2 separate regions of the Homo sapiens genome follow, and region 1 is reported to be linked to region 2. Evidence: microRNA targets listed by miRTarBase, many of them from high-throughput screens and not tested one by one. Region 2 holds a microRNA gene; the other region holds the end of a gene's coding sequence.
The links. Region 2 holds the annotated microRNA hsa-miR-4747-3p (AAGGCCCGGGCUUUCCUCCCAG, at 1,380-1,401, shown strand). A microRNA usually pairs through its seed, bases 2 to 8, with sites in the 3' UTR of a target mRNA and lowers its output. Matches are read on the target gene's strand: a 7mer-m8 pairs with bases 2 to 8, a 7mer-A1 pairs with bases 2 to 7 and ends in A, and an 8mer does both.

Region 1 (3,000 bases), not on the chromosome of region 2:
AGGTTTATAAAATTTAAGAAACTTTCTAGGAAGTGGCAAATAACTAAAGTAAGTGGCAGAGCTGGTTAAAACCCGGATCTTTTTCTCTCCAACCTTTTCACTACACCACACTGAAAAGTCTTCTCTATCCCTTAAAACAAGAGCCTTTGTTATCTTCTGCATTCTCTTCCCATGATGTTCTGCTTCTCTTCTAGATGAGCTTTGCCGTCAGATGGCTGGTCTGCCCCCTAGGAGACTCCGTCGCTCCAATTACTTCCGACTTCCTCCCTGTGAAAATGTGGATTTGCAGAGACCCAATGGTCTGTGATCATTGAAAAAGAGGAAAGAAGAAAAAATGTATGGGTGAGAGGAAGGAGGATCTCCTTCTTCTCCAACCATTGACAGCTAACCCTTAGACAGTATTTCTTAAACCAATCCTTTTGCAATGTCCAGCTTTTACCCCTACTCTCTACTTTTTCACCCAAACTGATAACATTTATCTCATTTTCTAGCACTTAAAATACAAAGTCTATATTATTGCATAATTTTGCTGCTTCTCAATATCATAGACACAGTGAATAGATGATGACTATATGGCTTATATACAAACATTCTATGTACAATTTCAAGGGAGACTAAACTTTAGGCTAATAATCTTTACTATTGAATCTGTCTGATATAGATCTTAGGGTTGAAGAAGCTATCTTTGTCTATTTGGGCTAACCATAGAATTTCATTTATTTTCCTCACAATATTTTCCTAGACCAACTCCCCATCATTCACGTGTTCCTCTTTACTCTTACTTTAACTATTTTGCTGGCTTGCCCGAAAATTTGCCTGGCAAGTCTTCCTTATAAGACACATCATGGTAAGTTTTGTAGTCCTGTAAGATTCTGCAACACAGTCAAGAATTATACAATCCTACTAGCAATATATAAGGACCCAAAATGTCTTCTGCTAAGCTCAGAGGCTGGGGCTAAAGCATGAGGACTATGCCAGCTATAGAACTTGGACTCATAATTCGCTATCCAATTTTTCATGCAGTTGTCTAGTCGGGAAGTAAGGTTGGAAACTAAGTCTCATTTACTGATTCGTTTATGGGTAGTACCGGGATGAACCCACCACCACAAAGCAAATTAGACAACTTAATGTGAAATCATACCATTGGTTGACGTTTCCTTGAGTTGCTACTTCGTTCATCTTCACAACTTAACAAGTGCACGGTCGAATTATTGTGCAAGTGGCTTTTGGATATCCTGATTGGGGCCTAAGAAGGGCATTCAGACTTGAATTTTAATAGGCAGACAGAAAGTTTGCCTAATAGTTAATACGAAAGAGTGAAAGAAACACAATATTCAGACAACCCACATTCTTATCCTGGCTCTAGCAGTAACCACGTAGCCTTGGATAAGCCATTTTCCTTCATTAGGTCCTGGTTTAATTTCCTCATCTTTAAAATGAGAAGGTTAAATTTATCTTAGTACTGCTGGGCGCAGTGGCTCATGCCTGTAATCTGAGCACTTTGGGAAGCTGAGGCGGGTGGATCACTTGAGGTCAGAAATTTGAGACGAGCCTGGCCAACATGGTGAAACCCCATCTCTACTAAAAATACAAAAATTAGCTGGGCGTGGTGGCACGTGCCTGTAATCCCAGCTACTCGGGAGGCTGAGGCAGGAGAATCAATTGAACCTGGGAGGCAGAGGTTGCAGTGAGCCGAGATGGCGCCATTGCACTCCAGCCTGGGTGACAAAAGCAAAAGTCCATCTTAAGAAATATATATATATATTATATATATTCTTAGTTCTAAGATTTCCTTTAATTCTATGATTCTCTGGATTTAAATGCATTATTCATATTTCTTGAAGCTTAGATACAGTCTAATTCATAGCAACCATATCTGCTTTATCCTAGGTGAGGGTAGCAGTCCACAATGGAATAGAAGAAAATCCCATTATAACAAATGACAAATTATATATCATGAATCCTTCTGTCTGACTAACTCAATAACTTTCTATAAAAGCCAATGGAATTCAAATAGGAGCTAGGAGACAACAAGTTATATATGACAGTGGAGGTTGTATTCCTTTTATATTGCTGAGAAAACTAGTTAAATGATCAGATTCTTGCTGTTAAGAAACAATTTCGTTTAATGGGATCTGTACAACTGATTTTAAAAAAATGCTACAAAAAGCCCCAAAGCATATAATCTCTACTCCTTACAGTCTCTAGAATTAAATGTACTCATTTAGACAACATATTAAATGCATATTTTAGCCACTTTAGAGAAACCTCATAGGCACAGAGTTTCCAAGATTAATTTTAAGAATATCTTCACGAACTTGACCCTCCTACTCCACATTGCAACATTTCCATCAGACAGCATTTCAATTCCAGTATTATGTATATTGCAAATTAAACATTTTAAAATATTTTTTTCCAATTTATTTCTCAAAATAAAATGTCTTTTGTTCTGGTTCTTTTTCTCTTCTATGTTTACGAAAAAGGCCTGAATTTATGAACTTTTATTCCACTTTAAAAAATGTGTATCAGCCGGGCGTGGTGGCTCACGCCTGTAATCCCAGCACTTTTGGAGGCTGAGGTGGGCGGATCACCTGAGGTCAGGAGTTTGAGACCAGCCTGGCCAACATGATAAAACCCTGTCTCTAAGAAAGATACAAAAAAATTACCCAGGCATGGTGGCGGGTGCCTGTAATCCCAGCTACTCGGGAGGCTGAGGCAAGAGAATCGCTTGAATCAGGGAGGTGGAGGTTGCAATGAGCCAAGATCATGCCACTGCACTCCAGCCTGGGCAACAACAGTGAAATTCCGTCTCAAAAAATAAAAGAAGATTCAGAAGAAAGTTTTTACTCATTAAGGTGTTAATATATTTTTTTTCCTGGTGAGCCCAAATGACAACCTTGCTAAGCAATGGCTTTCAATGAAAAGCCATTTTTTAAACCAAAATAATGGATCTTTAATGTTAGAATTAAAGAATTTGGTAAAAATATCAGTAGATATTGA
Region 2 (3,000 bases):
TTGACTTGCTCACTGCAACCTCTGCCTCCTGGATTCAAGCGATTCTCCTGCCTCAGCCTCCTGAGTAGCTGGGACTACAGGTGCCCGCCACCACACCCAGCTAATGTTTGTATTTTTATTTTATTTTATTTTTATTTTATTTTTTCGAGACAGAGTCTTACTCTGTCACTCAGGCTAGAGTGCAATGGCGTGGTCTCAGCTCACTGCAACCTCCGCCTCCCAGGTTCAAGCGATTCTCCTGCCTCAGCCTCCCAAGTAGCTGGGATTACAGGTGTGTGGCCACCACGCCTGGCTAATTTTTGTATTTTCAGAAGAGATGGGGTTTCACTATGTAGGTGAGGCTGGTCTCAAACTTCTGACCTCGTGTTCCGCCCGCCTCAGCCTCCCAGAGTGTTGGGATTACAGGTGTGAGCCACTGTGCCCAGCTTATTTTATTTTTTTGAGACAGTTTCACTCTGTCCCCCAGGCTGGAGTGCAATGGTGTGATCTTGGCTCATTGCACCCTCCATCTCCCGGGTTCAAACGATTCTCCTGCCTCAGCCTCCCAAGTGGCTGGGACTACAGGCGTGCACCACTGCGCCCAGCTAATTTTTGTTTTTGTTTTGTTTTTGAGACAGAGTTTCACTCTTGTTGCCCAGGCTGGCGTCAATGGCGCGATCTCGGCTCACCGCAACCTCTGCCTCCCGGGTTCAAGCAATTCTGCCTCAGCCTCCCGAGTAGCTGGGATTACAGGCATGCGCCACCACGCCTGGCTAATTTTGTATTTTTAGTAGAGATGGGGTTTCTCCATGTTGGCTGGTCTCCAACTTCCGACCTCAGATGATCTGCCTGCCTCAGCCTCCCAAAGTGCTGGGATTACAGGCATGAGCCACCGTGCCCGGCCATGCCTGGCTAATTTTTGTATTTTTAGTAGAGGCAGGGTTTCACCGTGTTGGTCAGGCTGGTCTTGAACTCCTGACCTCAGGTGATCTTCCCGCTTCGGCCTCCCAAAGTGCTGGGATTACAGGCGTGGGCCACCTTGCCCGGCCTCTCCTCTTGTTCTAAAGACACCAGTCCTGTTGGATTGGGGCCCACCCTACTGCAGTGTGATCTCATCTTAATATGATTTCATCTGCAAAGGTTCTATCTACAAAGACCCTGTTTCCAAAAACAATCCTATTCGTGGGTACTGGGGATCAGCCTTTGAACATCTCTTTTTGCAGGGGACACGGGCAACCCATAACAATTTTGTACCTGGAATGTGCCTTAATATACCTGTGTGTTCTCAACACCAGCATATAAGCCTGTTGGGAGGGGCCTCTGCACACTGTCGGGAGGGGCCGTCCCACCTCGGCTCGTTTCCCATTGAGGGAAGGAGGCTTGGTCTTAGCACGGGGTCTAAGGCCCGGGCTTTCCTCCCAGCTACCCGGAGAACGGCGTGGTCCAGATGAACTCCAGGGACGTCCGAGCGCGCGCCCGCACCATCATCAAGTGGCAGGACCTGGAGGTGGGCCAGGTGGTCATGCTCAACTACAACCCCGACAACCCCAAGGAGCGGGGCTTCTGGTACGACGCGGAGATCTCCAGGAAGCGCGAGACCAGGACGGCGCGGGAACTCTACGCCAACGTGGTGCTGGGGTGAGCCTCGCGTCCTGGGGCGAGCCCTTCCTCTCTCCTTTCCTCCCCTCCCGGGGCCCCCGGACTGGCTTTGAAGCCGTCCAGCCAGCGCTGTGTGTGCGAGGCCCTTAGCCTCCGGCCTGGCCTTCCTGCCTCCCCTCTGGGGTCTGTTCCTGCTCACTGCTGAGCATCTTTCTAAGACCGACCACCTTGTGCCCCTGAGTGCCTCTGCCCAGGGAACTGTCTCTGACCCCCAGGCCCTGACAGGCAGAGTTGTCAAACTTCCTTTTTCTCATGGTGTTTTTTTTATCGCTCTGTTGCCCAGGCTGGAGTGCAGTGGTTCGATCTCGGTTCACTGCAAGCTCTGCCTCCTGGGTTCATGCCATTCTCCTGCCTCAGCCTCCCGAGTAGCTGGGACTACAGGCGTCTACCACCACACCTGGCTAATTTTTTTGTATTTTTAGTAGAGACGGGGTTTCACCGTTAACCAGGATGGTCTCGATCTCCTGACCTCGTGATCTGCCTGCCTCGGCCTCCCAAAGTGCTGGGATTGCAGGCAGTGAGCCACCGTGCCTGGCCTCAAGCTTTCTTTTTCTCTCTTGTTTGTTTCAAATTTGGTGAATAGGTCCCATTCACAGGGTCAAAATAGAAAGCACCCAAGACCACACATGAAGGTTCTCCCTCCTCTGCCTGGTCACCCAGTTCCCCTTTTTGGCGACATCACTGTTACCAACTTTCCAGGGACATTCTGTTCATAAACATACACGCCAAACCACACCGCTTAGGAGTTGGCAAACTGCAGTCCACAGGCCTGCTGTGGTCCGCTGCCGGCTTTGACTAATAGTTTTATTGGGACGTGGTCACACCCATTTTTATCTTATTACCTGTGGTTGCTTTTGTGTTATAAGAGCAGAGTTGTGTAGTTGCAACAGAGACTATGCGGCCTACAAAGCTGAAAATCCTTCCTATTTGGCCATTTGCAGAATCATTTTGCAAAGCCTGTTCTTTCTCCCTTGCCTCTTTGTGTGTGTGTGTGCGTGTGTGTGTGTGTGTGTGTGTGTGATAAAATGTATGTAACAGAAAATTTACCTTTTTTTTTTTTTTAAAAGACAGAGTCTCCCTCTGTCGCCCAGGCTGGGGTATAGTGGCATGATCTTGGCTCACTGCAGCCTCCGCCTTCCAGGTTCAGGTGATTCTCCTGCCTCAGCCTCCCAAGTAGTTGGGATTACAGGCGCCCGCCACCACGTCTGGCTAATTTTTGTATATATATATATATTTAGTAGAGTCTGGGTTTCACCATGTTGGCCAGGCTGGTCTCGAACTCCTGACCTCAAGTGATTCGCCCGCCTCAGCCTCCCACAGTGCTGGGATTACAGGCATGAGCCACTGCGCCCGGCCAAAAAT

Region 1: the mRNA of MFAP5 is a reported target of hsa-miR-4747-3p. Seed matches in the 3' UTR shown: 7mer-A1 at 1,243-1,249.

What each region holds. Positions count from the first base shown.
Region 1 is chr12:8,645,398-8,648,397 of GRCh38, reverse strand. MFAP5 (microfibril associated protein 5) reads left to right here. Exons shown (of 10, transcript NM_003480.4): 10 at 195-2,455. The coding sequence ends at 307. Among named protein-coding and RNA genes, the nearest start is that of MFAP5, 16 kb to the left of the region's middle. RefSeq lists an enhancer at 1-521.
Region 2 is chr19:4,931,340-4,934,339 of GRCh38, forward strand. It overlaps MIR4747 (microRNA 4747), which reads left to right and starts at 1,348; the gene lies at 1,348-1,401. UHRF1 (ubiquitin like with PHD and ring finger domains 1) reads left to right here. Exons shown (of 17, transcript NM_001048201.3): 5 at 1,402-1,617.